Homo sapiens: one gene and its partner. Each later gene encodes a partner of the first gene's protein in a complex. Each region holds a gene or a part of one and is shown in the gene's direction. Other genes may lie near its edges. The genes, in order: CASC3 and UPF3B.

Region 1 (16,865 bases):
GTCCCTAGTTAAAGATTGCTGTGGGCTCCAGGCCCGGCGCGGTGGCTCAGGCCTGTAATCCCAGCACTTTGGGAGGCCAAGGCGGGTGGATCACGAGGTCAGGAGTTCAAGAGCAGCCTGACCAACATGGTGAAACCCCGTCTCTACTAAAAATACAAAAATTAGCTGGGCGTGGTGGTGCGCGCCTGTAATCCCAGCTACACAGGAGGCTGAGGCAGGAGAATCGCTTGAACCTGAAAGGCGGAGGTTGCAGTGAGCCCAGATCGCACCACTCCACTCCAGCCTGGGCGACAGAGCGAGACTCCGTCCCCCTCAAAAAAAAAAAAAAAAACTGGACCCAGACTAAACAACTGAAGGACAAAGTGGCAGACTATCACTTTCCTTATTTAGACACTAAACTTGGCAGCCTTATTTGCACCAATTTAGTCTGTGATCGATAAGATCCTCCAGGTTCTTTTTCTTTAACACTTATTAAATCATATTATCCTCCATTTTGAACTCAGGCAGTTGGCTTTTGGAGCTGGACTTATAAGTTGTCACGTTTGGCCACTTGTCTAATTAGCTGAGATTGTTTGAATTTTCTTTTTTTCTTTTTTTTGAAACAGAATCTCTTTGTCTCCCAGGCTGGAGTGCAGTGGCGCGATCTCGGCTCACTGCAAGCTCCGCCTACCGGGTTCACGCCATTCTGCCTCAGCCTCCCGAATAGCTGGGACTACAGGCGCCTGCCACCACGCCCGTCTATTTTTTTTTATTTTTAGTAGAGACGGGGTTTCACCGTGTTAGCCAGGATGGTCTTGATCTCCTGACCTCGTGATCTGCCCGCCTCGGCCTCCCAAAGTGCTAGGATTACAGGCGTGAGCCACCGCGCCCGGCCTTGAATTTTCCTTTCATCTCTGAAGGCATTCATAATTACTTCCAGTTTCATGTTATCTATAAATTTGATAAACATCAGGATCCTTAACCATGTCATTTATAAAAATTTTACTCAGGAAAGGCCGGGCGCGGTGGCTCACGCCTGTAATCCCAGCACTTTGGGAGGCCAAGAACGGCGGATCACGAGGTCAGGAGATCGAGACCATCCTGGCTAACACGGTGAAACCTCATCTCTACTAAAAACATAAAAAGTTAGTCGGGCCTGGCGGCAGACACCTGTAGTCCCAGCTACTCGGGAGGCTGAGGCAGGAGAATGGCGTGAACCCGGGAGACGGAGCTTTCAGTGGGCCGAGATCACCCCACTGCACCCCAGCCTGGGCGACAGACAGAGTGAGACTCCCTCTCAAAAAAAAAAAAAATATTTTACTCAGGGAAGAATTCTATGCCATGGTGGCCTTTGTTTGATAACATACATTATTAACGTGCACTCCTGTAGGTGCACTAAAAACTTAGCTCATGCACTTTGTATATCCTTATAATGGTCCAAAGAAAACACACTGATTCTTTTCAATGGTGGCCAATGCCTTGCCAAAATGAAATAATTTCCATAAACCTTAAGAAGGAAATAATGTCAGGATTTTGAATCAACATCTGTTTCTACTGACCATTTATTTTTAAATAGGTTCTAAAATCCTGACAAGGGCAGTAGCTCATGCCTGTAGTCCCAGCACTTTGGGAGGCTGAGACGAAAGGATCGCTTGATCCCAGCCAGGAGACAAGCCTGGGCAAGAGCGAGACCCCATCTCTACAAAAAACAGAAAAATTAGCCGGGTGTGGTAGTGTGTGCCCGTTGTCCCAACTACTAAGGAAGCTAAGGCAAGGAGGTCACCTGTGCCTGGGAGGTCAAGGCTGCAGTGAGCCGCGCTACTGCACTCCAGCCTGGGCAACAGAGTGAGACCCTGCCTCGAAAAAGCCAAAACAAAACCGGTAATACTGGCATCATACCAGCCTGCACTTTGGGACAGGTGATGGCTGGGGTGGGAAGAAACGTGAAGAGGAAATGAGAACACAGAGAAAACGCTGCAACAAGAAGTCCTCTGGCTTCACTGCAGACAACTGGTTTCTCCTTCGCCCGTTATCTTAAACAAGGCTGGTGCAGCAAATCTGACGCAGCACTACAGCTTTTAAGATTTACCTTGATTCGTGATTTTACCAAGCAAAGGAATGCAGTAAATTGACCTGCTTCAAACGTAGGTAGAAGTGAGAAATGGAAACAGAAAACCATGAAACAGCCCTAGTGTTGCAGTGAAGCTGTGACAGGTTGACTCCTTCCACTCGGGAAGCCCAAGATGGCCGGGCCAGGAACCCGGGAGGCTGCTGAAGTCTCAATTCCCCTCGCCCTAGGCCTGCCCAAGGGAAGTCAGGAGCCGCGCCACGCCCCCTTACATCACCGATAGACGTAATCCGGGTCGGCCGCAAACGTGCCGCAGGCCTAGGCCCCGCCCAGTGCCCCGCCCCTCCCCCAACACACACACACACACACACACACACACACACCCCAACACACACACACACACCCCAACACACACACACACACACACACACACACACACACACACACACACACACACACACACAGCGGGATGGCCGAGCGCCGCACGCGTAGCACGCCGGGACTAGCTATCCAGCCTCCCAGCAGCCTCTGCGACGGGCGCGGTGCGTAAGTACCTCGCCGGTGGTGGCCGTTCTCCGTAAGATGGCGGACCGGCGGCGGCAGCGCGCTTCGCAAGACACCGAGGACGAGGAATCTGGTGCTTCGGGCTCCGACAGCGGCGGCTCCCCGTTGCGGGGAGGCGGGAGCTGCAGCGGTAGCGCCGGAGGCGGCGGCAGCGGCTCTCTGCCTTCACAGCGCGGAGGCCGAACCGGGGCCCTTCATCTGCGGCGGGTGGAGAGCGGGGGCGCCAAGAGTGCTGAGGAGTCGGAGTGTGTGAGTGCGCGCAGGCGGGGCGGGGTGGGGACCGGGCGGCGAGCCGGCCGGGGGCGGGGTGTAGGTGATGCTAGGTAGTCTGTGAGTTGATAGTAGATACTGGGACTTTTTTTTGTTTTTGAGAGAAAAGGGGAGTTATCCCAATGCGAGTTTGCATCCGGAGTTCCAAGGGAAGAAGAAGGATTGGGGGTTTCTGGGAGGATGGTAGAGCCGCTGGAGATGGAAAGCGGATGTTTTATTCAGAAGTCGGGGCTGGAGGGAAGGAGACCAGACCTGCCTTGGCTACTACTTGATAAAGATTTACCTATCTCTGTCTCCCTCTCCAACCATTTTGTGCTGAATCTTCAGCTTTTCACCCACATTTCTTTATTGGGCTCCCCACCTCTGGAAATCACAGAACTAACCCATGTCTTCTGCTTTCTTTCAGGAGAGTGAAGATGGCATTGAAGGTGATGGTGAGTAGCATCTTTTACCCCATTAGGACAAGAGTTTTTTTTAACATAAACTCAGGTCATCTATTTCCAACATCGACATTCTCACACACTGTCACGGATTTAGGGCCACAGAGTGCCTTTTTGTAACATAGTGGTTAAGAGCATAGGCTTTAGCAGTATAGTCTTCAGCAAGTTACCCTCTGAGCCTGTTTCTCCTTTTGTAAGTGGGGACTATAATTTTATCCACGTTGTAGGTTGATGTCAGAATTAAATGAGACTCTTAGTCTGACCTGTAATAAGCAGCCAAAAAATGTTTCTGGGTTTCTTTTTTTCCACATATTTCTGTTTTATTTCAGCTGTTCTCTCGGATTATGAAAGTGCAGAAGACTCGGAAGTGAGTATGACAGGTTTTTTCCTATGGTATAGATCAGAAATGCTTTTTAAAAACGTGTACACACCTTCGTTGCAAACGTACCATGACCTCCGTGTTTATCCTCTTGTGTATTCTTCATTTATGCTTCTGAAAAAGTGTTACAGAAGGTCTTGTTCACTTTAGACCTAGGGAAAACTTGGGGCACGCCGTCTCAAGCCACAGGTGTTATACTGTTAGTTGGCTTCTCTTCCTGTCTGAAGAATATGAGGTTCTAAATAAGAGAGTGAGGATATCTTGAAGTCCTCTGAAAGATGTTTGACAGTTTGTTTTATGCAGTGTAGGTTGAGAAGCCAGCCAATTGGTTATTTTTTTCCAAATCTATCTGAAGACTTTGAAAGGGTAGGATTCGGAATGTTTTGTGCCAAGAGCATCCATCATTTTATAGGTGGGGATTTTTCTGTTTTTAGGAGAAAGTTTCCTGTCTTTTGGATAAACTACTAGAGATGCCATCAGAGTAAGTGTTTGTTTCCTGGGTTGTTGAGTGGACTCCTGAGTTCTGGTAATGGGATTATATATAGGGGGAATTGGATGGTGGATCAAAGATTTTGTCTATACATTTTTAGAACTGTTACTACATTTTAGAATCTGTTAAGCCCTTGAGGATGGAATAGTGAACACTATAACAAAATTCCTATCTTTAGAGATCTTACAACTCAATAAGGAAGTCAGACAAACATTCAAGCAATTGTACCACTTGCTGATAGGGGATAGCACTGGGATAGGGCTAAGTAGGGTGTTACAGCTGGGTACTGAATCCATCTTAGGCAGTCGGGAAAGATTAAACAGTTGGCTGGGTAAGATGTGTTCTAGGCAGAGAGAACAACAGTCAAGAAAGCCCACAGGGGCCGGGAGCAGTGGCTCACGCCTGTAATCCCAGCACTTTGGAAGGCTGAGGCAGACGGATCACTTGAGGCCAGGAGTTTGAGACCAACGTGGCCAAAATGGTGAAACTCCATCTCTGGCCCGGCGCGGTGGCTCACGCCTATAATCCCAGCACTTTGTGAGGCCCAGGCGGGCGGATCACGAGGTCAGGAGATCGAAACCGTCCTGGCTAACATGGTGAAACCCCGTCCCTACTAAAAATACAAAAAAAAATAATAATAAATTAGCTGGGCGTGGTGGCGGGCGCCTGTAGTCCCAGCTACTCGGGAGGCTGAGGCAGGAAAATGGTGTGAATCCGGGAGGCGGAGCTTGCAGTGAGCTGAGATTGTGCCACTGCACTCCAGCCTGGGTGACAGAGCAAGACTCCGTCTCAAAAAAAAAAACCCATCTCTACTAAAAAATACAAAAATTAGCTTGGTGTGGTGATGCATGCCTGTAATCGCAGCTACTTGGGAGGCTGAGACACGAAAATCGTTTGATCCCAGGAGATGGAGGTGGCAGTGAGCTGAAATCATGCCACTGCACTGCTACCTGGGTGACAGAGTGAGACTCTGTCTCAAAAAAAAAAAAATAAATAAATAAAAGAAAGGCTGTAGGGGTACAAAAAGAATAGTAATTAGAATGAATAAGATCTAAACCCAGCGCGATGGCTCACACCTGTAATCCCAGCACTGTGGGAGGCCAAGGTGGGCCAGTCACTTGAGGCTAGGAGGTCAAGACCAGCCTGGCCAACATGGCAAAACTCCATCTCTACTAAAAATACAAAAATTAGCAGCTCATGGTCCCGCATGCCTGTAATTCCAGCTACTCAAGTGGCTGAGGCAGGAGAATCCCTTGAGCCTGGGAGGTGGAGGTGGCAGTGAGCCATAATCACACCACTGTACTCCAGCCTGGGCAACAGAGCAAGACTCTTGTCTCAGAAAATTTAAAAAATAAAAATGACTAAGATCTAGAATTTCATATTTGCAACATGGTGACTACAGTCAACCAGTAACTTATTGTACATTTAAAAATAACTATTGGCTGGGCACAGTGGCTCATGCCTGTAATCCCAGCACTTCGGGAGGCTGAGGTGGGTGGATAACAAGGTCAAGAGATTGAGACCATCCTGGCCAACATGGTGAAATCTCGTCTCTACTAAAAATACAAAAATTAGCTGGGCGTGCTTGCACGCCCCTGTAGTCCCAGCTACTCAGGAGGCTGAGGCAGGAGAATCGCTTGAATCCGGGAGGCAGAGGTTGCAGTGAGCCGAAATCAAGCCACTGCACTCCAGCCTGGTGACAGGGCAAGACTCCATCTCAAAAAAAAAGTATATATATATATTAATAAAAGAACGTAATTGAATTGTTTGTAACAAAGGATAAATGCTTGAGGCGATCCATACCCCATTTACCCTTACATGATTATTACACATTGTATATCTATATAAAAATATCTCATGGGCCGGGCTTGGTGGCTCACACCTGTAATCCCAGCACTTTGGGAGGCCGAGGCGGGTGAATCACCTGCGGTCAGGAGTTCGAGACTAGCCTGGCCAACATGGCGAAACCCATTTTCAGTCTCTACTGAAAATAAGAAAAATTAAGTAGGCGTGGTGGCAGGTGCCTGTAATCCCAGCGACTCAGGAGGCTGAGGCAGGAGAATCACTTGAACCCAGGAGGTGGAGGTTGCAGTGAGCCAAGATTGTGCCATTGCACTTCATCCTGGGCAACAAGAGGGAAACTCTGTCTCAAAAAACAAAAACAAAAACAAAACTCATGTACTACATAAATATATACCTACTGTGTACTCAACAAAAATTAAAAACTTTCTTTTTCTTTTTTTTTTTTTGCTTGAGATGGAGTCTTGCTCTGTAACCCAGGCAAGAGTGCAGTGGCATGATCTTAGCTCGCTGCAACCTCCACCTCCCGGGTTCAAGCGATTCTCCTGTCTCAGCTTCCCAAGTAGCTGGGATTACAGGTGCACACCACCACACCCAGCTAATTTTTGTATTTGTAGTAGAGACGGGGTTTTACCATGTTGGCCAGGCTGGTCATGAACTCGTGAACTCAGGTGATCCGTCCGCCTCAGCTTCCCAAAGTACCGGGATTACAGGTGGATTACGGGTGTGAGCCACTGTGCCCAGCCCTCTTTTTTTTTTTTTTTTTTTTTTAAAAAAGAGGCAGGGTCTCACTCTGTTGCCCAGTCACCCAGGCTGGAGTGCAGTTGTGGGGTCACAGCTCACTGCAACCTCAAACTGCTGGGTTCAACCAGTCCTCCTGCCTTGACCTCCTGAAGTGCTGAGATTACAAGCATGAGCCACCATACCCAGCCAAAAAAAAAAAAAAATTAAGTTTTTTTTTTTTTTATTGAGATGGAGTATTGCTCTGTTACCCAGGCTGGAGTGCAATGGCTCGATCTCAGCTCACTGCAACCTCTGCCTCCTGGGTTCAAGCGATTCTCCTGCCTCAGCCTCCCGAGTAGCTGGGATTATAGGCGCATGCCACCACGCCCGCCTAATTTTTGTGTTTTTAGTAGAGATGGGGTTTCACCATGTTGGTCAAGCTGGTCTCGAACTCCTGACCTCAGGTGACCCACCCACCTCGGCCTCCCAAGGTGCTGGGATTACAGGCATGAGCCACCGTGCCCCCCATTTTTTTTGTTTTGTTTTGTTTTGTTTTTTAAGACGGAGTCTCATTCCGTTGCCAGGCTGGAGTGCGGTGGTGCAATCTCGGCTCACTGCAGCCTCCGCCCCGCCTGGTTCAAGTGATTTCTCCTGCCTCAGCCTCCCGAGTAGCTGGGACTACAGGTGTGCACCACCACGCTCAGCTAATTTTTGTATTTTTAGTAGAGACGGGGTTCCACCATGTTGGCCAGGATGGTCTCCATCTCTTGACGTCGTGATCCACCCACCTCGGCCTCCCAAAGTGCTGGGATTACAGGCGTGAGCTACTGCGCCTGGCCCAAAATTTTTTTAAAAAGAGAAAAAGCCCAGATAGAGAAGATAGAGAGCGTTTGGGAACTTGGGAGTAATTAGGTGTGACTGGAGCATTGTTGGGACAGGATAGGTATTAGAAATAAAGACAAATTGGTGAGCAGGGGCCACTAATTGGTGAGGTGGGAGGATTGCTTGAGCCTGGGAAGTGAAGGTTGCAGTGAATCAAGATTGTATCACTGTACTCCAGCCTGGGCAACAGAGCAAGACCCTGTGTCAAAAAAAAAAAGTGATGCGATTGGATTTATTTATTCATTTTTTAAAAATTTTTATTTACTGTTTTTTGTTTGTTTGTTTTTTTAATTTTTAGTAGAGATGGGGTTTCACCATGTTGGCAAGGCTGGTCTCGAACTCCTGACCTCAAGTGATCTGCCGGTCTTGGTTTTTCAAAGTGCTGGGATTACAAGCATGAGCCACTATGCTTTGTCTGATTTAAATTTTAAAGATGTGTTTTTCAGATCCAGAGAACACTTGCATCAGAAAATCCAATTAGCCATTCTCTACTGAAACAGACTCTTGGGAGGGGCATTGGAGACTCAGACATTTATGTATTAAAGAATATCCCAGGTTGATGCTATGTACTGTAAAATTTGAGGATTCTTTTATAGCAGTTATTTTGTCCACAGTGAAGAGAAACAAGATCAGAGACAGAAAAGCTAGTTAAGAAAGCTATTGTAGGAATCTAGTTAAGTAGTGAGTGTGGCATGGAATAGAGTGGTGATAGTGAAAATAGAAGTGGACAGAATTCAGAGTTAGAAGTGGTTTTGGGATGGGGAATATTTGCTGCAGTACAGATGCTTTTTGATTTATGGTGTAGTTACATCCCATCCTGGTAAACCCATCATAAGTTCAGAAGTTCAAGATAACTTCTTGGCTAACTTGGAGCAGCAACTCTCTGTTGCTATCCAGCATCTCGAGAAGTACGATTTCTTTTTTTTTTTTTTTTTCTTTTTTTAAGACAGAGTCTCACTCTGTCTCACTCTGTCTGCAGTGGCGTGATCTCAGCTCACTGCAACCTCTGCCTCCCGGGTTCAAGCGATTCTCGTGCCTCAGCCTCCCAAGTAGCTGGGATTACAGGCGCACGCCACCATGCCTGGCTGATTTTTTTTGTATTTTTAGTAGAGACGGGGTTTCATCATGTTGGACAGGCTGGTCTTGAACTCTTGACCTGGTGATCCGCCTGCCTCGGCCTCCCAAAGTGCTGGGATTACAGGCATGAGCCACAGTGCCTGGCCTCTTTTTTATTTTTTTAAAAATATTTTTAATAGAGATGAGGTCACTCTGTGTTGCCCAGGCTGATCTTGAACTGGACTCAAGGGATCCTCCCACCTTGGCCTCCCAAAGTGCTGGGATTACATGTGTGGTGAGCCACTGCACCCAGCTGAGAAGTACAGTTTCTACTGAATGTTTATGGCTTTCATACCACCATAAAGTCAAAATTATAAGTTGAACCATCATACATCAGGGACCGTCTGTAGTCACTAGAGAATGGAAACGTTGGAGAAACTGACAGGCAATATGGAGTGTTCATTGAGTTTTGGGGATTGTGAATTTATAGCAGCTTACCATTCTATATGTAAGGGAGTTTGGATGTTTTCCTAATGGCTAGGAAAGAAGTACCACTGAAGGCTTAAATGTGGGGGATGAATTGTGGGTGAGGCACAAAGGAAGACTAGAGGCAGAAGAGCTGTTTAGAGGTTGTTAGGATAGTCCAAGGAGCATGACGATGGTGCCCCTAAAGAAGGTTCATACTTGTTGGAATGGCAAGATGTGGGACAGATTAGAGAGAGATTCTAGTGTACTAACAACCCCTTCATTGATTGAATGTGGAACCTAAATTAAGGAGTCAAAGGAGGCCAGGTACCTTGGCTCATGCCTGTAATCACAGCATTTTGGGAGGCTGAGGCAGGTGGATTGCTTGAGCCCAGGAGCCTGAGACCCACCTGGGCAACATGGAAAAATCCTGTCTCTACAAAAGAAAAGTAGAAAAAAAAATTATCCGGTCTTGGTGGCGCAGGCCTGTGGTCCCAGCTACTGAGGAGGTTCAGGCAGGAGGATCATCTAAGCCCAGGGAGGTCAAAGCAGTAGAGCTGTGATCACTCCACAGCACTCCAGCCTGGACAACAAAGTGAGACCCTGACTCAGAAAAAGAAAAAGGAGTCAAAGGAATGTGCAGGTTGATGAATGGTGTTGAATGGTGTTAACTGTTAAGGAAGGGACCCCAGGAGAAGAGTTCTGGAAGGACAGTTGTGGGTTAGGTTTTGGATGTTTTGAGATCGAGAAGGTGTGGGACTTTTAGGTGGTGATACCTGGTAAATAGTTTTTGATTCCTAATTGCTCATACCTTTCTGAGTTCTCATTTCATTTTTGAGTTTTTCCAATTCTGATTGATGTTCTTTCATGCCTTATATAATTTTCTTAATGTCTTTTTAGCTTATTTTGAAATAGAAGTTGCAATTTTGATATGATATGCGGATGTCTTTCTGGCATGCTTTCATTGTCTGTAGGAATGCTATTATTTTTTCTTATTATAACTTTATGGGATTTAACTTCTGTATTTTCTGTTCATTTTTATGTAAAATTAGTTTTCCTGGTCTTTTCGAAGGAAGCATGATTTAGAATAGCTTTTTCTAACTTCACAGAGCTGCTTCTGTTGTTTTTCTGTGGTGGTGAGAAATATGGTGGCTTGCTTTCTGAGATTTGTTGCTTTTGTTCCCTTTCCCAGCTTGTTCTGGACCATCCCTGTCCTACTGAATTTGGTCCTGCTCTCAACAGTTTCTCTTCTAGGAACTCCCTTCTAGGGACAGTGTAGGGCCCTGTCCCCAGAAGGAAGCCCTGGCAGCCAGGTCAGCTTCATCCCTTCAGACCTTTTTTTTTTTTAAGACAGAGTCTCACTCTGTCGCCCAGACTGGAGTGCAGTGGCGCAATCTCAGCTAACTGCAATCTCCGTCTCCTGGGTTCAAGCGATTCTCCTGCCTTAGCCTCCTGAGTAGCTGGGACCTCGTGTGTCACCGTGCCCAGCTAATTTTTGTATTTTTAGTAGAGATGAGGTTTCACCATGTTTTCCAGGCTGGTCTCGAACTCCTGACTCAGATGATCCACCCACCTTGGCCTCCCAAAGTGATGGGATTACAGGCATGAGCCACCGTGTGTGGCCCCCTTGCTAGTTGTAAGTGCTGTTCTCAGTTTTGACTGTTGTGCTTTCCCTTGACTGCCTGTTGATTATTTCAGTGTTCTCCTGTTCTCAGGTCCATTTGCTTTCTCTCTGCTTTCTCCTGCGTGGACACCAGTACTATACAGGTCCTACAGCTGTTGGTGCTTTGTTATGCACTTACATTTTGGGTCTTGGGGGATACCTGGTAACTTAACTTTGTTGCAGTGTTGTCTGAAGGTTTTGGTTTCTTTTTTATTTTTTGAGACAGAGTCTTGCTGTCGCCCAGGCTGGAGTGCAGTGGCTTTGCCTTCCAGATTCAAGCTATTCTTGTGCCTCAGCCTCCTGCGTAGCTGGGATTACAGGTGCGTGCCACCATGCCTGGCTAATTTTTGCATTTTTAGTAGAGACGCGGTTTTACCATGTTGGCCAGGCTGGTCTCGAACTCCTGGTCTCAGGTGATCCACCCACCTCGGCTTCCCAAAGTGTTGGGATTATGGACGTGAGCCACTGTGTCTGGCCAGGGTTTTGGTTTGGGTCTCGGTTTTGCTGTCCAGAGCTCTCATTCCATGTGGAGATTTGAAGAGAGATAAAACTGTGCCACTGCCATTTTCTGAGAGTCTTCCAAGAATTCTTTTTTTTTTTTTTTTGGCAAATGGGTCTCCTTATTTTGCCCAAGCTGAGCTTGAACTTGAACTTACAATCCTCATCAGCCTCTTGAATAGCTGAGACAATAGGTTCATGCCACTGTGCCTGGCCAAAAAAACTTGTTAAAGAAATTTGACTGAGGGAAGGCTGAAGAGATGGTAGTTGGAGAGGTAGCTTTGAGATCAAGAGGTGATTTGGATGTTTTTTAAAAAGTTAGGAGAGTATCAAATAAGGTCAAAGATTGAAAAAAAGAAAAGAAAGGGGGAAAAAAGAGAGGGAATAGATAATGATATTGAGTACTGGTATTTTTGACTGAGTATATGAGAAAAAGTAGGAACCAGACAAGATTAACATCTTCCATTGTAATTACAGAGAAGTGGGAAGGAAAGGTATGTGCAAAGGAAGATTAGAAAGGAGGGAAAAGCTGGGTGCGGTGGCTCACGCCTGTAATCCCGGCACTTTGGGAGGCCGAGGCGGGCAGATCACGAGGTCAGGAGATCGAGACCATCCTGGCTAACATGGTGAAACCCCGTCTCTACTAAAAATACAAAAAATTAGCCGGGCATGGTGGCGGGCACTTGAGCCTGGGCGACAGAGCGAGACTCCGTCTCAAAAAAAAGGGAAAAAAAAGAGGGAATAGATAATAATATTAAGTACTGGTATTCTTGACTAAGTACATGAGAAGATGTAGGAACCAGATGAGAAGTATCTTCCATTGTAATTACAAAGAAGTGGGAAGGAAAGGAAGTTAGCGTTCCTTTCTGTGTTTTGTTTTTGTGAAATAGAAGGATAGAGCAGGACAGGCACGGTGGCTCACACCTGTAATCCAAGCACTTTGGGAGGCCAAGGCAGGAGGATTGCTTGAGCCCAGGAATTTGAGACCAATCTGGGCAACAAAGTGAGACCCTCTCTCTACAAAAAATCAACCTGGCGCAGTGATGTGTGCTTATGTCCCAGCTACTTGGGAGCTTGGAGTGGGAGGATCCCTTGAGCCCAGGAGGTCGAGGCCACAGCAAGCTATGATTGCACCACTGCACTCCACCCTGGGTAACAGTGTGAGACTCTCGAAAAAAACAAAAGAATGACATCTGCTTCAAAAAGTAAGAGTGTGTGCGTGTGTGTGTGTGTGTGTGTGTGTGTGTGTAACCCCCTTTGGCAATGGAGTAGTCTGTTGTAGGCCTGGAGAAAGCAGACATTTGAATTGATCCAGTTCCAGGCATATGGGAGTGGCAAGAGAAATGGGATGTTACTAGTAGTGATTGAAATGAATGAGCTATGGAGTCTAGAGAGAGAAGAAAGTGAATGTGAGAAAGGACTGATAGGCAGAAGTTAGAAGCATCAAGGGAATGGATGCATTGAAAAATTAGAGACGAGACAGTAAGGAAACAACTAGGAATAAGAGGCATTTTTTTAAAAAACTGCTTTATTGTGGCAAGGCGCCGAGGCTCATGCCTTTATCCCAGCACTTTGGGAGGCTAAGGCAGGCAGATCACGAGGTCAGGAGATCGAGATCATCCTGGCTAACACGGTGAAACCCCGTCTCTACTAAAAATACAAAAAACTTAGCCAGATGTGGTGGCGGGCACCTGTAGTCCCAGCCACTCGGGAGGCTGAGGCAGGAGAATGGTGTGAACCCGGGAGGTGGAGCTTGCAGTGAGCCGAGATCACGCCACTGCACTCCAGCCTGGGCGACAGAGTGAGACTCCCTCTCAAAAAAGAAAAAAAGAAAAAAAACTGCTTTATTGAGATACAATTCACAGAACGTACAGTTCATTTATTTATAAAGTGCATAATTTAGCCAGGTGCGTGCCTGTACTCAGCTACTCAGGAGGCTGAGGCAGGAGGAATGGTCGGCCCAGGAGTTCGAGACCAGCCTGGGCAACATAGTGAGACCTCATCTCTTTTTATTTGTTTGTGTGTTTGTTTTTGAGACAGAGTCTTGCTCTGTCACCCAGTCTGGAGTGCAGTGGCACAATCTTGGTTCACTGCAACTTGACCCTCTGGGGTTCAAGTGATTCTCGTTCGTCAGCCTCCCGGATAGCTGAGGTTACAGGTATGTGCCATATGCCTGCCTAATTTTTAGTATTTTTAGTAGAGATGGAATTTTGTCATTTTGGCCAGGCTGGTCTCAAACTCCCAGTCTCAAGTGATCTACCCACCTCAGCTTCCCAAAGTGCTGGGATTACAGGCGTAAGTCACCACGCCTGGCCCGTAAGACCTTATCTCTATAAAAAATAAAAAATTTAGCCAGGCGTGGTGGCGTGCACCTGTAGTCCCAGCTACTTGGCAAGCTGAGGCAGGAGAATTGTTTGAGCCCAGGAGGTCAAGGCTGCAGGGAGCTGTGATCATACCACTGCACTCCAGCTTGAGTAACAGAGTGAGACCTTCATCTCAAAAAAAAAAAAAAAAAAAAGGAAGGAAGAAACCCAGTTCTCCCATCCTTCCCGTAGCCTCAAGCAACCGCAAATCTACTTTCTGTCTCTGTTGATTTTCCTATTCTGGCCTTTCATATGAATGGAATTATGTAATATGTAGATTTATGTGTCTGGCCTCTTTCAGTATAATGTTTTCATCTGACTTGTAGCATGTATCAGTACTTCATTCCTTCTTTCTGCCTCCCCACCCCAGCTTTATTGAGGTATAACTCACAAATAAAAATTGTATACATTTAACACATACAGTGTGGCATCTTGATATATGTGTACATTGTGGAGTACCACAGTTAAGCTAATTAACGTATCTATCACCTCACCTAGTTAACCTTTTTGTATGTGTGTGATGAGAACACCGAAGAGCTACTCTCAGCACATTTCAAGTTTACAATATGTTATTTATTTTTATTTTACATGGTTTAAAAAGAGACAGAACCTTTGTCACCCAAGCTGGAGTTCAGTGATGCAGTTATAGCTCACTGCAACCTCAAACTCCTGGGCTTAAGCAATCCTCCCACCTCAGCCTCCTCAATAGCTGGGACTACAGGCGTGCACTACCATGCCCAGCTAATTTATTTATTTGTTTTTATTTTTATTTTTTTTTTGAGACGGAGTTTCACTCTTGTTGCCCAGGCTGGAGTGCAGTGGCATGATCTCAGCTCACTGCAGCCTCTGCCTCCTGGGTTCAAGCGGTTCTCCTGCCTAAGCCTCCCAAGTAGCTGAGATTACAGTCATGCGCCACCAAGCCCAGCTAGTTTTGTATTTTTAGTAGAGGTGGAGTTTCTCCATGTTGGTCAGGCTGGTCTCGAGCTCCCGACCTCAGGTGATCCACCCACTCAGCCTCTCAAAGTGCTGGGATTACAGGCGTGAGCCACCATGCCCAGCCGCCCAGCTAATTTTTAAACAAATTTTTTGTAGAGGCAAAGAATCGCTGTATTGCCCAGGCTGGTCTTGAACTCAGCTTCAAGCAATCCTCCAGCCTCAGCTTCCCAAAGTATTAGGATTACAGGCATGAGCCACCATGCCTGACCAAGTATACAGTACGCTATTATTATTATTATTTTAGACAGTCTTGCTCTGTAGCCCAGGCTGGAGTGCAGTGTTACAATCTCGGCTCACTGCAGTCTCTGCCTCCCAGGTTCAAGCAATTCTTCTGCCTCAGCCTCCTGAGTAGTTGGGATTACAAGCGCCCACCACCACGCCCGGCTAATTTTTTTATTTTTAGTAGAGACAGGGTTTCACCATGTTGCCCAGGCTGGTCTCGAACTCCTGACCTCATGATCTGCCCACCTCGGCCTCCCAAAGTGCTGGGATTACAGGTGTGAGCCACCACGCCCAACCAGTAAGTTATTATTAACTATGGTTACCATGCTGTACATTAGGTCTCCAGAACTTATAACTGAAGTTTTATATCCTTTTACCACGATCTCATTTTCGCTACCCTTAAGCCCTAGAAACCCCCTTCCTACTCTCTGTTTCTATGAGTTTGACTTGAGATCATGTGGTGGTTATCTTTCTGTGTCTAGCTTATTTTACTTAGCATAGTTCCGTCTAGGTTCATCCATTTGTTGTCACAAATGTCAAAATTTTTTTTTTAGGGCAGAATTAGATTCCATTGTTCGTGTGTTCCACATTTTCTTTATCCATTCACCCAACAACAGACACGAGTTATTTCCATAGCTTATTTCCATCTTTTGGTTATTATGAATAATTCTGCTACAAACATTAGTGTACATGTTTTTATGGGGACATATGTTTTCACTTCTTTTTGACTATGTACCTAGGAATGGAATTGCTGAGTCATGTGGTAACTCTGTAATCATTTGAGGAACTAGAACCGCCATACTGTTTCCAAGGTGCTGCACCATTTTACGTGACTAGCAGCAGTGTATGAGGGTTCCAGTTTCTCTATATCCTTAACAGCACTTGTTGTGTTATTTACCCAGGTGCATGCCTGTACTCTCAGCTACTCAGGAGGCTGTGGCAGTAGGATTTCTTGGGCCCAGGAGTTCGAGACCAGCTTGGGCAACATAGACCTGTCTAAAACTTTTTTTTTTTGGCGGGGCACGGTGGCTCACGCCTATAATCCCAGCACTTTGGGAGGCCGAGTCAGACGGATCACTTGAGATCAGGAGTTCCAGACCAGCCTTGCTAACATGGCGAAACCTCGTCTCTGCTAAAAATGCAAAAATTAGCCAGCCACTGTGGCACGCGCCTGTAATCCCAGCTATTCAGGTGGCTGAGGCATAAGAATCACTTGAACCCGGGAGGTAGAGGTTGCAGTGAGCCGATTTGATTCTAGATGTCCTATTAGGTATGAGATGTTTTCTCATTCTGATTTGCATTTCCCTGATGACTAATGATGCTGAGCGTTTTTTTTTTTTTTTTTTTTTGGTGCTTATTGGCCATTTGTGTATCTTCCTTGAAGAAATGACTATTCAGATACCTAGGCAATTTTTTAAAAATTAATTTTTAATTATTGTTTTTATTTTTTTTAGAGACAAGGTCTTGCTGTATTATCCAGAGTGGTCTCAAACTCCTGGGCTCAAGCAAGCAGTCTTCCCACCTCAGCCTCCTCAGTAGTTGAGACTATAGGCATCAGCCACCACACTTGATCTTTGCCCAAAGTAGCTGGGATTACAGGTGTGCGCTGCCATGCCCGGCTAATTTTTGTATTTTTAGTAGAGACGAGGTTTTGCCATGTTGGCCAGGCTGGTCTTGAACTCCTGACCTCAGGTGATCTGCCCACCTCAGCCTCCCAAAGTGCTGGGATTACAGGTGTGAGCCACTGCGCTTGGCCATTTTTTTTTTTTTAATTGAGATGTAAGAGTTCTCTATATATTCTGTATTCTAGATGTAAGTCCCTTATCAGATATGATTTGCAAATATGTGTTCCCTTTCTGTGGATTGTTCACTTTCTTTATAGTGTTCTTTCAAGGACAAAGGTTTTAGTTTTGATGAAGCCTGGTTTATGTTTTTCCTTTTGTTGCAGATGCTTTTGGTGTTAGGTATCTAAGAGTCATTTGCCAAACTGAGAGTCATGAGTATTTA
Region 2 (16,865 bases), on another chromosome or scaffold:
ATTTTTTGCCCTGGCTTAAACCTGCTGTTTTGACTGTAGAATTTCAGCCGCAGTACTGATAAGTGACTCTTAAACTTGTTTGATAAGTTTTAAATATTTACTTCTTATTTTGCTTCGAGGACAAACATTTATTTAATTCAAATCCATTAAGCCAACAGTTCCCAATTGGGATACTGTTTAACATTCTCACAAAGTTGTATATAATTAAAACATGAAACTTGATACATCTCGGCCTGGTGTGGTGGCTCACGCCTGTTATCCCAGCACTTTGGGATGCCGAGGCAGGTGGATCACGAGGTCAGGAGATCGAGACCAGCCTGGCCAACGTGGTGAAACCCCATCTCTACTAAAAATGCTAAAAAAATTAGCCAGGCGTGGCGGTCCACGCCTGTAATCCCAGCTACTTGGGAGGCTGAGGCAGAAGAATCGCTTGAACCTGGGAGGCAGAGGTTGCAGTGAGCTGAGATCACGCCACTGCACTCCAGCCTGGCGACAGAGCGAGACTCTGTCTCAAAATCGAAAAAAAGAAACTTGATACATCTCTTACTTTATATCCAGAAAGGTCCAGTCTATAGGGAAGACACATTTCTACTTTAACACTCTATTATCTGCTACCTACATTTAGCCAGAGAATATCTAAGCTGCCATTTGCCACTTTTCTTTTTGGTTTGCAATTATAGGTAAATAGTGTGTCTTCTTGTTTTGTTTTGTTTTTTTCAATATTACTTCAAAGTTGGTAAAAATTAAATTTTTGTCAGGGACTATGCCAGTAAAAATTGAAGGATTGCCACTGTTTGTCCAACTTTTATTAATCTCCCCAAGCCAGCTATTTTTCCACTCCAACTATTTTATTCCAGTAGATATTTAACTAGATTCTAGTTACTTAGCCTGGAAATCTGAGTTGTGTTTAATTTTTTCCTTTTTTAAAAATCTCTTACATGTAAGTTATGAATCTTGTCAATTTATTGTTTATCTTTTGAGATAGGGTCTCCACCCAGGCTGGAGTGCTGTGGCGCAATCAGAGCTCACTGCAGCCTGGAATTCCTGGACTCAAGCAATCCTCCCACCTCAGCCTCCTGAGTAGCTGGGACTACAGATGTATGTCACCATGCCTGGCTAATTTTCTTTAAATTTTTTATAGAGATGGGGTCTCACTACGTTGCCCAGGCTGGTCTTGAACTCCTGGGCTCAAGTGATTTCCCCCCCCCCACCTCAGCCTCCCAAAGTGCTGGGATTACAGGTGCGAGCCACCATACCCAGCTCAACACCACTTATTAAAGAGACTATCCTTTCCTCATTGTGTTTTTTGTTTGTTTGTTTGTTTTGTTTTGTTTTTAAATCTTAGAGACAAGGTCTGCTTATGTTGCCCAGGCTGGATTTTATTGTTTTTTTTTAATATCTTGTTCACCTAGCCTTAAACAGTCACACTTTATGTCCTCATCACTTAATGCCTAGACAACCACTGTCTCTAAACTTACAGGATTTTCCATTTTTTTCATTCTTGTATAATTCAGTCTATTATATTGCCATGAAATTAATCTTTTTGAAAATAATGATTTAAATTAACAGTTGGGGGAAAAAGTCCAAACTCCTTAGCCTGGTAGTCAGGGTCCTCCATATTCTGGCCTCACTTCTGTTTCTTCAGCCTGTCTTCCACAATTTCCCTCTGTTTCAGTCTGGTTTATCTATTCCTTCTCAAATATATCACAGTTTTGTTTTTTGGTTTTTATTTTTGTTTTTTTTCTTTTTCTTCTCTCTCTCTCTCTTTTTTTTTTTGAGACAGAGTCTTAACTCTGTCGCCCAGGCTGGAGTACAGTGGCACAATCTTGGCTCATTACAACCTCCGCCTCCTGGGTTCAAGCAATTCTCGTTCCTCAGCCTGCCGACTTAGCTGGGATTACAGGTGTGTGCCGCCACGCCCAGCTAATTTTTGTAATTTTAGGAGATGGGGTTTCACCATGTTGGCCAGGCTGGTCTCAAACTCCTGGCCTCAAGCAATCCACCCGCCTCAGCCTCCCAAAGTGCTGGGATTACAGGCGTGAGCCACCATGCCTGGCCTAATATATCACAGTTTTGAAGCTAATCTGATTCTCTACTCACTGGGATTCCCAACATAATTTTTCCTCCATGACTGCTTTGCAGTGCCTTCTGGTCAATTCTGTTTATTTTTATTTTTCTGCTTATGTCTACATGCCAATGATTTAAGGATAGGATACCTTGTTTTTGACATTCTGTGACAGGGTGCTTGTGAATTTTTTTCCCATTAGTCACTTGGGGTTTTTGTATTGAAATATAACTCACCTATAATAAAATTCATCCTCTTAAAGCGTACAATTCAGTGGTTTCTGGTATATTCACAAGGTAGTACAACCATCAGTACTAATTCCAGAATGTTTTCATCCCTCCAAAAAGAAACCCATATCTATTAGTAGTTACCTCCCATTCTCTCCCTCCAGCCCCTGGCAACCACTAATCTACTTTATGTATCTATGATTTCCCTCCATTTCATATAAATGTAATCATACAATATGTGGTCTTTTCTGACTGGCTTCTTTTACCTAGCACAATGTTTTCAAGGTCCATCCATGTTGTAACATATAACATATATCATTACCTCATTCCTTTTGCATTTTTAAAAATTGTAAAAATACACGTAACATAAAATTTACCATCTTAACCATTTTAAGTGTACAGTTCAGTAGCATTAAGGTATATTCACACTGTTGTGCAACAATCTTGGGAACTTTTTCATCTTGAAAAACTGAAACTCTTTACCCATTAAACAACTCCTTATTTCCCTTCCTCCAGCCCCTGGCAACCACCATTATACCTTGTGTCTGTATGAGTTTCACTACTGTAGGTACCACATATAGGTGGAAACATACAGTGTCTGTCTGGCTTATTTCATTTAGCATAATATCTTCAAGGTGTATCCATGTCGTAGCATGTGTCAGAATTTTCATCTTTTTTTTTTTTTTTTTTTTTTTTGAGATGGAGTCTCACTTTGTTGCCCAGGCTGGAATGCAGTGGCGCGATCTCAGCTCACTGCAACCTCCGCTTCCTGGGTTCAAGCAATTCTCCAGCCTCAGCCTCCCAAGTAGCTGGGATTACAGGTACCCACCACCACAGCTGGCTAATTTTTTTGTACTTTTGGTAAAGATGGGGTTTCACTGTGTTGGCCAGGCTAGTTTCAAACTCCTGACCTGAAGTGACATGCCTGCCTCAGCCTCCCAAAATGCTAGGAATTACAGGCATGAGCCACTGCCCCCAGCCTCATTTTTAAGACTAATATTCCAGTATATGTATATACCACATTTTGTGTATCCATTCATCTGTCAAGGGGTATTCGAGTTGCTTCCACTCTTGGCTATTGTGAACAATATTGTTATGAACACAGATGTGCACATATTCGAGTCCTTGTTCTCACTGCTTTTGGATATATACCGAGAAATGGAATTTCTGGAGTCATTTGGTAATTCTATTTTTATTTTATTATTTATTTATTTTGAGACAGAGTCTCTGTCACACAGGCTGGAGTGCAGTGGCATGATCTTGGCTCACTGCAACCTCCACCTCCCAGGTGCAAGCAATTCTCCTGCCTCAGCCTCCCAAGTATCTGGGATTACAGACACCTGCCACCACACCCTGCTAATTTTTTATGTTTGTGGTAGAGACGGAGTTTCACCATGTTGGCCAGGCTGGTCTCAAACTCCTGACCTCAAGTGATGCGCCCACCTCGGCCTCTCAAAGTGCTGAGGTTACAGGTGTGAGCCACTGTGCCCCGCCGGTAGTTCTTTTTTGTTTTGTTTTGTTTTTTTGAGATGGAATTTCGCCCTCATTGCCCAGGCTGGAGTAAGTACAATGGCGCGATCTTCCCTCATTGCAACCTCCACCTCCTGGGTTCAAGCAATTCTCCTGCCTCAGCCTCCTGAGTAGCTGGGATTACAGGTGCCCACCACCACACCCAGCTAATTTTTGTATTTTTAGTAGAGATGGGGTTTTACCATGTTAGTCAGGCTGGCCCAATAATTCTATTTTTAATGTTTTATGGAACTGCCATACTGTTTTCCATGCAGCTGCATCATTTTACATTCCCACCAATACATGAGTGTTCCAGTTTCTCCACATCTTTGCCAACACTTGTTATTTTCTGCTTTTTGATAGTAGTCCTCCTAATAGGCGTGAGATGATACCTCATTGTGGTTTTGATTTGCATTTCCCTAATGACTAGTAATGTGGAACATATTTCCATATGCTTGTTAGCCATTTGTATATTATCTTTGAAGAAATGTCTATTCAAGTCTTTTGACCATTTTTTAAATTGGGTTATTTGGTTTTTTGTTGTTGAGTTATAGGAGTTCTTTATATATTCTCGATATTACCCCTTATCAGATAATATAATTTGCAAATATTTCTCCCATTCCATGGGTTGCCTTTTCACTCTGTTGATTGTGTCTTTTGATGCATAGAAGTTTCTAATTTTGACGTAGTCCAATTTATCTATTTTTTACTTTTTTTAAATAAGAGATATACTTTATATTTTTGTTTTATTGTGGTAAGAACACTTAACATGAGATCTACCCTCTGTATTTTTACTTTTGTTGCCTGTGCTTTTGGTGTCCTGGTGTATTTTTTTTTAAGTGTTAACAGATTTTTCCCCAGCTTTATTGAGCTATAATTGACAAATAAAATAATATATATTTAAATTTTACTATGTAATAATTGTTTTTTCTTTTTTCTTTTTCTTTTTTTTTTTTTTTTTTTACCAGGCTCGAGTGCAGTGGCACAATCTCAGCTTACTGCAACCTCCGCCTCCCAGGTTCAAGTGATTCTCCTGCCTCAGTCTCCCAAGTAGCTGGGATTACAGGCGTGCACTATCACGCCTGGCTAATTTTTGTATTTTTATTTATTTTTATTTTTATGTATTTATTTTTTTGAGACGGAGTCTTACTCTGTCGCCCAGGCTGGAGTGCAGTGGCATGATCTCGGCTCACTGCAATCTCTGCCTCCTGGGTTCAAGTGATTCTCATGCCTCAGCCTCCAGAGTAGCTGGGATTGCAGGCACGTGCCACCACGCCCAGCTAATTTTTGTATTTTTAGTAGAGACAGTGTTTCACCATGTTGGCCAGGCAGGTCTCAAACTTCTGACCTCAGGTGATCCTCTCATCTCGGCCTCCCAAAATGCTGGGATTATAGGCATAAGCCACGGTGCCCAGCCCAACGTGATAATTTTATATATGTATACATTATGAAATGTATACATTATGAAATGTATACATATTGTATACATATATACATTATGAAATGTATACATAATGTATACATATATACATTATGAAATATATACAATCAAGTTAACACATTCATCACCTCACATAACACATCACCTCAAATAGTTACACTTTTAAAAAATAACAGCTTTATTGAGATATAATTCACATGCCTGAAATAGTCACCCTTTTAAAGTATACAGTTCAGTGAATTTTAGTATATTCATAGGCTTATGAGCCTATCACCACAATCTAAATTTAGAACATGTTCATCACCCCTAAGAGAAACCCCACCCATTAGTTGTCACTCCTCATTCTTCTCACCACTTCTACCCCAAACTCCAGGCAGCTACTACTCTACGTTCTGTCTCTATAGATTTGCCTATTTTGGAGATTTCTAACATTTTAAAATGAAAAATAGTTTGTAGGGTCTTTTTCACATTAAAATATCACATTTTATAAGTTGAATTTATATGAATATTTTACTTTCATGCCGTGTTGTTTCACTATGTTATCAGTGTGAATTTGTGGCTCCTTTTGTAGTATGTTGATTATGGTTGTGCCAGTGTGCTTTATGCCTTTGGGAGACCCTCTTCAGATGACTGCCATCAAAAGAGTCATAGAAAGCAATGGGTTGATTCCCTTATATCCACTTTTGACATTTTCTTTGTTATAGCAAGTGTGGTATTTTTTTTCTAAACAGGTCAGGAATATCCCGCTATAGTAGAATTTGCACCTTTTCAAAAAGCTGCAAAAAAGAAGACTAAGAAAAGAGATACCAAAGTCGGGACTATCGATGATGGTACAGTATAGCTCTAATTATATAATGCTATTGCTGTGGGGTTTTTAAAAATAATATCTTTGTGAGAGTTAATTCGACCCCAAAATTTTAAATTAGAAAATATACAAAATAAAGTAAGTGAGAAATGTTATTTGCCGATGGAAGCTTTGCTTAATTGTTAGACTAGAGAGAGTTTCTTGCACAGAATCTCTGCTCTCTTTGGCTAGGGCATTTCATTCTTCAACCATTGAACAATATAATGTTGACTATTGAGTAACAAATCACCATAGGTTTATTGATTAGAAGATAGTGGAAAGGCCAGGCGTGGTGGCTCACGCCTATAATCCCAGTACTTTGGGAGGCCAAGGCGGGCGGATCATCTGAGGTCAGGAGTTTGATACCAGCCTGACCAACATGGAGAAACCCTGTCTCTACTAAAAATATAAAATTAGCCGGGTATGGTGGTGCATGCCTGTAATCCCAGCTATTCGGGAGGCTGAGGCAGGAGAATCTCTTGAACCCAGGAGGCGGAGGTTGCAGTGAGCTGAGATCACACCATTGCACTCCAGCCTGGGCAACAAGAGCGAAACTCCATCTCAAAAAAAAAAGAAAAAGAAAATAGTGGAAAAAAATCAGGTTTCAAAGTTTAACAGGTGCTTCTTGAGGCCTCACCATTTTTATGATTATTTATTTGACTTTTGGTTTCCATTATATTTATAAAGAAGAAGGTTTGAACTGTCATGGGAAAATTTCCATACCCAGGTAACTTTGTATAAAGTAGCTGAAGTTGTCACTCCTATTTTCTGGTCTTTGGATATACAATTAGCTACACACATAGTATTAGGTTGAACAGGAATAGAAGAACTGAGGCCAGGCGCGGTGGCTCACTCCTATAATCCCAGCACTTTGGGAGGCCAAGGCGGGCAGAGTTGCTGAGGTCAGGAGTTCGAGACCAGCCTGGCCAACATGGTGACACCCCATCTCTACTAAAAACACAAAAATTAGCTAGGCATGGTGGCGGGCACCTGTAATCCCAGCTGCTTGGGAAGCTGAGGCAGAAGAATCACTTGAACCCGGGAGGCGGAGGTTGCAGTGAGCTGAGACCGCACCATTGCACTCCAGCCTGGACAACAAAAGCAAAACTCCGTCTCAAAAAAAAAGAAAGAAAGAAAGAAATACAAGAACTGAAAAACCAAAATAATTGCCATTTAAGGTACACTGGCTCCAGATTTTGAGACCTCTGTAATGTTATGTTAGATAGCTGTTACACAACTCTTTATGTTGGATAAGGACTAGGACCATATTTTATATCAGATTGTTACTTTAGAATCATCTAGTTTAATTTCCATCATTTGTTACTATTACAGGTATTTTATAAAGAAAACACGGTAAGGACTCAATAACACATAGCTGTGATACTGGTTTTATTACAGATTTAGATCTGGAAGACTTGATCAAGTGACACATAGAAACAAGCAATATAATGGCTTAGATGTGTCACCCTTTCTGATGTTAGAGGTCTAGGAGAGAACTCCAGGAATTCCCATCACCTCAAGTGCCACATCTAGGACTTCTCTCTAATTTATCTTTTTGGAACACCTAACTTAGTTTAGTAGGACAGTGACTTTTAAAAGCAAACTATGTAATACCCCTAGTGGTTCTGTTATAATGCATGGCGTCTCATTTTTCCTGACCCCATGTTATACCAGATTCCTATAGTGAGTATCAGTGATAGGAGTCCTGAGAGCAAGTGACCAATTAAGCTCTAAATAGTCTACCTTGTGGGTATGGTTTGGTTTTTTTTAATCTTCCACGAAGTAAAAAATTATCTTCTTTGATAAATCAGTATTGTAGATAATGTCTTCTTTTTTTGTTTAAAGTCTATTATATTTTCTGTTTCCTCAAATGATTATTTAGATCCAGAATATAGAAAGTTTTTGGAAAGTTATGCCACAGATAATGAGAAAATGACATCTACTCCAGAGACACTGCTAGAGGAAATAGAAGCAAAAAATAGAGAATTAATAGGTAAGTGGGCAAAAAGAATCAGGGCAACAGTCTTTTCATCACAGTACCTAAGTCTCCTACCTCCATCAGTTGCTAGCTGTGTGACTTCAGGGAAGTTACTAGTTTCTCTGAGACTGTTACTGTAAATTGCAGATGGTAATACCTGCCTCACAGCATTATGAGAATCCATTAAAGTGGGAAAAATTCTTTGACCTATTTAGTTTCACACAAATGTAATATAAATACAAAAAGTTCGATGACTGATAAGGAATGTTTAGACAGTGGTAAGCCTTTGAAGGTCAATTGGTATTTTCTAGTAATAAGTTCATATTCCTAAAAAAATTTTGACTTGAAAATACGAAAAAATGAAATTAGTTACTGCAAAATTGAAAACTACTTGAGGAATTCTAGCTTGGATCTTGGTTCTCAGTAATAGGCTGTCACTACTGTATCAGTAGCTCTAAACATGAGCATAATCTTTGACCCAGGATTTCTACTCAGGAATTTATCCTAAGGAATATGTGGGGTTTTTTTGTTTGTTTGTTTGTTTTTTTTGCTTGCTTGCTCGCTCGCTCTCTCTCTGTGTGTGTGTGTGTGTGTGTGTGTATGTGTGTGTGTGTGTGTGTGTGTGAGAGATGGAGTCTTGCTCTGTCGCCCAGGCTGGAGTGCAGTGTCGCAATCTCGGCTCACTGCAACTTCCGCCTCCTGGGTTCAGGCGATTCTGCCGCAGTCTCCCGAGTAGCTGGAAGTACAGGTGTCCGCCACCACGCCCGGCCAATTTTGTATTTTTAGTAGAGCCGGGGTTTCACCATGTTGGCCAGGCTGATCTCGAACTCCTGACCTCAAGTGATCCGCCTGCCTTGGCCTCTGAAAGTGCTGGGATTACAGGCATGAGCCACTGTGCCCGGCCAGGAATATGTGTTTTAAGATGGCTGTAAGGCCAATAGCTTATTCAGAATGTTGAAAATGAAAAATATTCTTCCAAAACTTGACTTTTATTAATAGATGGATAGTACAAGCCTATTTCTGGTAACTTTCTTAGAATAAATTCCCAGAAGTGGAATTATGGGGTCAAAAGGATTAGATATTTTTAGCCCCTTCCCCCCAACTTCTTCCAGTTGAACAAGTTTACACTCCTATCAGTAAAACAAGAGAATGTCCTAAGTACTTAATTCTCATCAGTTGGGAATGACTCTTTTAATAAATTATTTTGTTGTTTTAATTTGAATTTCTTTACTTTTTAAAAGGTATTTTAATCCCGTATTGTTGAAATCGAATGCTGTAAAACTTCTTTCTGATATTACAATTGTGATCTTTCTGCATAAGGGGTGTACATGTTTTCCCACCTTGGGTGGTTGGCAGGGAATGTCAGAAAATGGAATCGTTTCTAGGGGTTGATAAGTATGATTAATAATCTGTTTACATTTATGTAGCTAAAAAGACAACCCCACTTTTGAGCTTCCTGAAAAACAAGCAGGTAAATCTTTTGTCTTTATAGTTCTCTCAATACTTTAATTTCTTTGCTTTGCATTCTATAAACATTTTAAGAGCATTGGGTTTCTAGAGGAGAAATAGCTGCTTTTTCCACCATTACTCTTTAAGGATTTGCCTTCTTGGTCTCACTCTCTAGCCTGCTCCTTCACTCTGGTTGTTGGACCAGGAGTTCACTCTACAAACGTGGAATGTTCTTAGGTTGTCCCAGAGACACTCATTTGATATTCTGAAAGCCTCTGGAGAGATAGTAAGGCAGCAGTGGAAGAATAATATTAGCAGGTTCTGGTCTTCATTGTCTTTCGTTTTCTGGGTGGAGTGGGGATAACGGTGGTAGAATGCCACTTTGTAGAAAGTAGGAAGGAAAGATTATTCAGTTGGGGCCTACCATGACTTCAGGATTTATTAGGGTTTTGGTGATGATTATTTTATTTGAAGGCTTGTGTTGATGTTTCTTTCTAGAGAATGAGAGAAGAAAAGAGAGAAGAAAGGAGGAGGAGAGAAATAGAAAGAAAAAGACAAAGAGAAGAAGAGAGGAGGAAATGGAAAGAAGAAGAGAAACGAAAAAGGAAAGATATAGAAAAGCTAAAGAAGATAGACAGAATTCCAGAAAGGGACAAATTAAAGGATGAACCAAAGATTAAGGTATAAGAATGTTGAAACTGACTGCATGTTGCTAAAAATTGCACGTATCTACTTCTTTAAATATGCATGCGTCTTGTGTTGGTGTAAATGAATTTTTTGTTTTGTTTTTGTTCTCTTTTGGGGGGAAGTGATCCAATAAAAATCTTTCCTGTAATAGTATTAGTTTTTAAATTTAAGATCATTTAAAAGGATAAAGTAGTATGTTATTTCTTCAGTGCAGATCTGTGCTGTTTTTGTCATTGAAAATGTTGGATTTTTAGACTATTGTCCTCTAAATTCATAGTAAATGAGGGCTTAGGGCTGGCTGGCATGATTTATGGTTTTTTTTCAGCTTTTTCTTCATAATTGATACATGAAGTTACCTCATCTGTTTGTTTTCCACTGTCTTCAGGTACACAGGTTTCTGTTACAAGCTGTGAATCAGAAAAATGTAAGGACCAAGTACATGATACAGAGCATCTAGTATCATGTCACACACACAGGTCTTAGCTAATAAGTCCTTTTGGTGGTGGTGGTGGTAGTGTTACTTGTTGAAAACCCCTTCAGGTTGACTTGAGTCTTCTTAAAAGCTGAGCTATTTTATTATAAATTTCTACTTTAAAAGGAAGCCCAGGTGACTTCCTGATGCTCTGCTGTGTGCCCAGAAGCTTCATTGACCTACAGCCAGAGGACAACCATGCCTATATAGTTCTTTCTCATCTTCTTATATGCTTCTCATAACTGGCTGCCTTGTGGGAGGACTAGGGATAAATACCCTGCAATATGTGCCTTTCCCTCTCACATGACTCCCGTAGTATCTTCCTGCATATATCTGGGAATCTGTGAGCAGCAGATTCGGATTCATGCATTGCATTTGGGAAGAAGAAAACCTGCAGAAAGATCCCAACCTTGCCACTTCCCTTCTAAGGGCATGGCTTGGGCAGCCCTTGTTTCAACATATTTCCTGGGGAAGTACTAGTACCTAGCACTTCAGATAAAGTCAAAGAAAATCTCACAGAGAGGGTGGCAGGGTCTCCTTATTTTATTTCCTGAAAACTCAGCAGTTTATGTAGCAAGGGTTCCCTAAGTCTCTACGGGGCTCATTACTGATGATGAGGGGCTTGGGGGAGGATGGAGTTTCTCATCTTAATTCTTTCCAGCAATCTCTCTGTCTGCTATGCCACAAGTGACTTGACTTGCTATTCCTAACAATCAGCAAGGCAGAAGGTAGAGCCAGCCATGCTAGAGACATTCATTAATGTTCTTATTAGAGTAATGAACACCTTGGTTTCTAATAAGGATGTTCATTGGAGAAATAAGAGCACTTCCAATGAAACCTGCACATGGTATCCTCATTTTACACTGGTGCCTTCTCAGTGTCCATTTTGGACTCACCATTTGCAGTGGCTGTCTGTGTGCCAAAATGCTTTGTGCTTATGTCTTGTGGTGCTTTGCCTTTTGCTTAGTAATTTACATGATGCCTTCACCCTGAGATGAACCTTGTGTGATACCTTCACTCTGAGACTTGAAATTCTTCTATTTTGCCTAAGAATCTCTCTGATTATCCGACACTTGGAGGTATTCTCGAGAGATTCATAGCAGCAATGTAAAAAACAATGGCATTTTTGAACATGCGTAAATATGGCATTAAATACAGAGTTCCTACTCAGTAGAGATGGAACTTCACTATTTGGTTGTATAAGGCCTTTAGATTTTTAAATCAAATGCCAAATAATTCTTGTTATTAATCTCTAATGGCAAGATAATTGTACCATCATAAGTATGTTATTCTCAGGCTCAAGGCAAAATTATTCCTGCAATGGATCTCTCCTTTGGTGACCAAGGTATTTGTCATTCCAAGTACTACATAAAAACAGTCCCAACAGAAACGATCTGCCTATCACTTAAAATTTGTGGGCTGTTTCCCATTAAGTTATATCAACATGCTGGTTTGCTACAGAAGCATACTTTGAAGTATGCATTGGTTCACTTAAAGGTTGACCCATTTAAAGCCAAAGGAAGCCGGGCACAGTGGCTCACACCTGTAATCTCAGCACTGTGGGAGGCCGAGGCAGAAGGATGGTGTGAGCCCAGAAGTTTGAGAACAGCCTGGGTGACATGATGAGACCTTGTCTCTACAAAAAAATTAAAAAATTAGCCATATGTGGTGGTGTGCATCTGTTGTCCTAGCTACTCAAGAGGCTGAGGCAGGAGGACCACTTAAGCCCAGGAGGTCAAGGTTGCGGTGAGCCATGTTCATGCCACTGCACTCCAGCATGGGCAACAGAGTAGTGAGACCCTGCCTCAGAATAAAAGCCAAAGGAGTCTTGATCCTATTGCCACAAAGTGATTAAACCACTTCGTTCAAGTGGATAACACTTTAACATTAATAGCATCCTTTTAGTAAATTACTACTCTTATGCACTAGTTGTTCACCTGAAAGATTAAGTGTACCTGCAGAGATAGGGGGCTTTGTCTAGTCTAAATTTTAAATATTTGGTATACTGGGTTTTTAATAGAAGATAGTGTCCCAGCCTTCAAAATAAAAATAAACATTTTATCTTTAAAGCTGCTCAAGAAGCCAGAAAAAGGAGATGAAAAAGAATTGGACAAAAGAGAAAAAGCCAAGAAATTGGACAAAGAGAATCTCAGTGATGAAAGAGCCAGTGGGCAAAGTTGTACATTGCCCAAGCGTTCTGATAGCGAACTTAAAGATGAAAAACCAAAGAGGTCAGTAGTCAAGGACTCTTTGTTATGTTTGATTTATACATGCTAGTTTTGCTGCTATGTCCTGGACATGTACCTGAATTAAGATAAGCTGTTTTATGCAGGGCAGGGGGATGAGGAGGAACAGTTTCAGAATATTCTTGTATCTTAATCTGGGTGAATGGTTTTGGGGTTTTGTTCCTTCTTAAAACACTAGTATTTTTCACTCTGCTCTAAAAGTGCAACCTCATTGCAGGGGCCAAATCAGAATCACAGTGTTCCTGCATTTGTGATTACAAGATCTTTCAGGGTTCTGTCTCAGATTTGTTTTTCATGCAGACCTGAAGATGAGAGCGGCAGAGACTATAGGGAGAGGGAACGGGAATATGAACGAGATCAGGAGCGCATACTTCGAGAAAGAGAGAGGCTGAAGCGGCAAGAAGAAGAGCGCCGTAGGCAGAAGGAGCGCTATGAGAAAGAGAAGACTTTTAAGAGAAAAGAAGAAGAAATGAAAAAAGAGAAAGACACACTTCGGGATAAAGGAAAGAAGGCTGAAAGTACAGAATCAATAGGCAGCTCAGAAAAAACTGAAAAGAAAGAAGAAGTGGTCAAGAGAGATCGAATAAGAAACAAGGTGCTGCTTGTCATTAAACTTGTTTATGAGGGTTTTTTTCCCTTTTCCTGCAAGTGTAAAGAAAGTGTAAAGGGCACTGTTATTATAGAATTTTTAAAGGGGAACTTTAATCATCTGCAACTTTTTTTTTTTTTTTTTTTTGAGACAGAGTCTGACTATGTTGCCCAGGCTGGAGTGCAGTGGCACAATCTCGGCTCACTGCAAGCTCCGCCTCCTGGGTTCACGCCATTCTTCTGCTTCAGCCTCCCAAGTAGCTGGGACTACAGGCGCCCACCACCACGCCTGACTTATTTTTTTGTATTTTTAGTAGAGACAGGGTTTCACCGTGTTAGCCAGGATGGTCTTGATCTCCTGACCTCGTGATCCACCTGCCTCAGCCTCCCAAAGTGCTGGGATTACAGGCGTGAGCCACCACGCCTGACCAACTTTTATTTCAGTCTTGGCTGGGCTTTTATTAACTTACTATAGAAATTGTAAACATACACAAAAGTAGAATAGAGAATAGTATGATGGGCCAGGTGCAGTGGCTCACACCTGTAATCCTAGCACTTTGGGAGGCTGAGGTGGGTGGATTGCTAGAGCCTAGGAGTTCTAGACCAGCCTGGCCAACATGGTGAAACCCCGTCTCTACTAAAAATACAAAAAATCGGCTGGATGTGGTGGCGCACACCTGTAATCTCAGCTACTCGGGAGGCTGAGGCAGAAGAATCACTTGAACCTGGGAGGTGGAGGTTGAGGTGAGCCGAGATCACGCCATTGTATTCTAGCCTGGGCAACAGAGCGAGACTCAGTCTCAAAAAAAAAACTGGCCGGGCGCGGTGGCTCACGCCTGTAATCCCAGCACTTTGGGAGGCCAAGACGGGTGGATCACGAGGTCAGGAGATCAAGACCATCCTGGCTAACATGGTGAAACCCCATCTCTACTAAAAATACAAAAAATTAGCCAGGCGTGGTGGCGGGCGCCTGTAGTCCCAGCTACTCGGGAGGCTGAGGCAGGAAAATGGCGTGAACCTGGGAGGCGGAGCTTGCAGTGAGCCGAGATCGCGTCACTGCACTCCAGCACGGGCAACAGAGCGAGACTCTGTCTCAAAAAAAAAAAAAAAATCGAATAGTATGATGAACTCCATGTACTGTACCCATCACCCAGCAGTTCATAGCCAACCTTCTTTCTATTCTACTTCATCCCTACCCCTACTAGATTATTTTCAAACAAACCCTGCACATAATTTCTTCCTTAAATACTTCAGTATATGAGATAAATACTCTATTAATATTACCCTAGTAGCATTTTCACACCAAAAAAAACTAACAATAATTCCTTAACGTCCTGTCTATTCAGTGTTCATATGTTCCCAATTGCTTCATTAATGTCTTTTTAAAATTAATTAATTATTTATTTTTTGCGATGGAGTCTCGCTCTGTCATCTAGGCTGGAGTGCAGTGGCATGATCTCAGCTCACCACAACCTCCACCTCCCGGGTTCAAGTGATTCTCCTGCCTCAGCCTCCCGAATAGCTGAGACTACAGCCTCAAGCCACCATGCCCGGCTAATTTTTGTATTTTTAGTAGAGACAGGGTTTCACCATGTTGGCCAGGCTGGTCTCGAACTCCTGACCTCAGGTGATCCTCCCGCCTCAGCCTCCCAAAGTGCTGGGATTACAGGCATGAGCCACCGTGCCCAGCCTAATGTCTTTTTTTTAATAGGACCTAAACAAATTCCACAAATTATGCTTCCTTGAAATGTCTTCTTCAGTTCTCTTTTGTTTTTAGTTTATTTTTTGAGACAGAGTCTTGCTATGTCACCCAGGCTGGAGTGCCGTGGTACAATCTCAGCTCACTGTAGCCTCGACCTCCTGGGCTTAAGCCATCCCCCTACCTCAGCCTCCAGAGTAGCTGGGACTACAGGCATGCATCACCATGCCCAGCTAATTTTTAAGTTTTTTTGTAGAGATGAGGTCTCCCTATGTTGCTCAGGCTGGTCTCAAACTTTTGAGCTCAGCCGATCCCCTCAAAGTATTGGGAATAAAGGTATGAGCCACTGCACCCAGCCAAGTTTTCTTTTAATCTAAACAATTTCCCCTTCTCTTGTTTTCCTACCATTTGTTGCAGAAACCAATTTGTCTTGTAGGGCTTTTCCTGTTCTGAATTGGCAGATTACATCCCCATGCTGTTATTTAACGTGTTCCTCTGTCTTCTGTGCTTCCTTTAAAACTGGCACTTAGGGCCTGGCATGATGGCTCATGCCTGTAATCCCAACAATTTGGGAGGCCAAGTCAGGAGGATCACTTAAGCCCAAGAGTTGGAAAGCAGCCTGGGCAACATAGGGAGAGCTTGTTTGTACTAACAATGTAAAAACAGCCCAGTGTGGTAGTGCGTGCCTATAATCCCAGTTACTAGGTACCTGAGGTGGGAGGATCGTTTGAGTCTGGAATGTCGAGGCTGCAATAAGCCTTGATCATCCCACTTGCTCTTCAGCCTGGGTGACAGGGTGAGGCCCTATCTCCAAAAAAAAATTTACCCAAGCATATAAAATAGTAATTACCAAATGGTTGCTTTTCTTTGGAGATGGAGAGAGGAAGTAGGCAAGTTGTCATTTACCGTGCCCTCACATTTTTGGTCTTAAATGACTTCACTTGAGCATATATTCATACATAACTATGACTCTTAAAAATCCCATATAAAAGCTTAGTAGCATTGTTGTAATGGTAACATATTTTATTGTACTTCAGGATCGTCCAGCGATGCAGCTTTACCAACCAGGAGCTCGAAGCCGAAATCGACTCTGTCCCCCTGATGACAGCACCAAGTCTGGAGATTCAGCAGCAGAAAGGAAGCAGGAAAGTGGTATTAGCCATAGAAAAGAAGGAGGAGAGGAGTGATAAGTCCAGATGGCCTTAGGTGTCCTGACTGTCTAGGCAGCCAAAGAGCACACGTTAAGCAATCCAGAGGTGCCTTCAGGGCAAAGAATAGAGAGAAAGGGAGCCGCTGTGCTGGTGGGGTACACTGCAGAGGAGTAAGTCTTGTGTCAAAGCAGGAATCTGATCAGAGGTTCAGAATTGGAAGTACAATTTCATTGCTTTTGCAATTTCTACAAATTAATTTTAAAGTGTCAGAAAAAGGTGACGGCAAGGACATGCATTGCAATTTGCAGGGGGAATTGTCAAGTGAGGACTTCATCACATATGACACGAGAGAAAAGTAAGAGCTGGTTCTAAAATCAAAAGCTGTTGTTCATCCTGAATTGAATTTTCTGAATTTGGGTGGAGCAGAGTCGCTTTGAAGCCTTGTTCCGATCTAATTCTATTGTATTGTTGATGATAAGTGTTGACATTGGGTAGTGTAGAAGCAACAA

What was found.
Region 2: CASC3 (region 1) and UPF3B share a complex: the UniProt entries of both Homo sapiens proteins name them as parts of the mRNA splicing-dependent exon junction complex.

What each region holds. Positions count from the first base shown.
Region 1 is NC_000017.11:40,137,920-40,154,784, forward strand, and holds the start of CASC3 (protein CASC3), read left to right. Parts: upstream 1-2,617; 5' UTR 2,618-2,629; coding exon 2,630-2,860; intron 2,861-3,287; coding exon 3,288-3,315; intron 3,316-3,650; coding exon 3,651-3,688; intron 3,689-4,134; exon of another isoform or gene 4,135-4,181; intron 4,182-16,865. UniProt on the Homo sapiens protein: Required for pre-mRNA splicing as component of the spliceosome. Core component of the splicing-dependent multiprotein exon junction complex (EJC) deposited at splice junctions on mRNAs.
Region 2 is NC_000023.11:119,834,405-119,851,269, reverse strand, and holds part of UPF3B (regulator of nonsense transcripts 3B), read left to right. Parts: intron 1-5,973; coding exon 5,974-6,072; intron 6,073-7,968; coding exon 7,969-8,079; intron 8,080-9,491; coding exon 9,492-9,535; intron 9,536-10,011; coding exon 10,012-10,194; intron 10,195-10,585; coding exon 10,586-10,624; intron 10,625-12,742; coding exon 12,743-12,903; intron 12,904-13,218; coding exon 13,219-13,513; intron 13,514-16,242; coding exon 16,243-16,392; 3' UTR 16,393-16,865. UniProt on the Homo sapiens protein: Involved in nonsense-mediated decay (NMD) of mRNAs containing premature stop codons by associating with the nuclear exon junction complex (EJC) and serving as link between the EJC core and NMD machinery.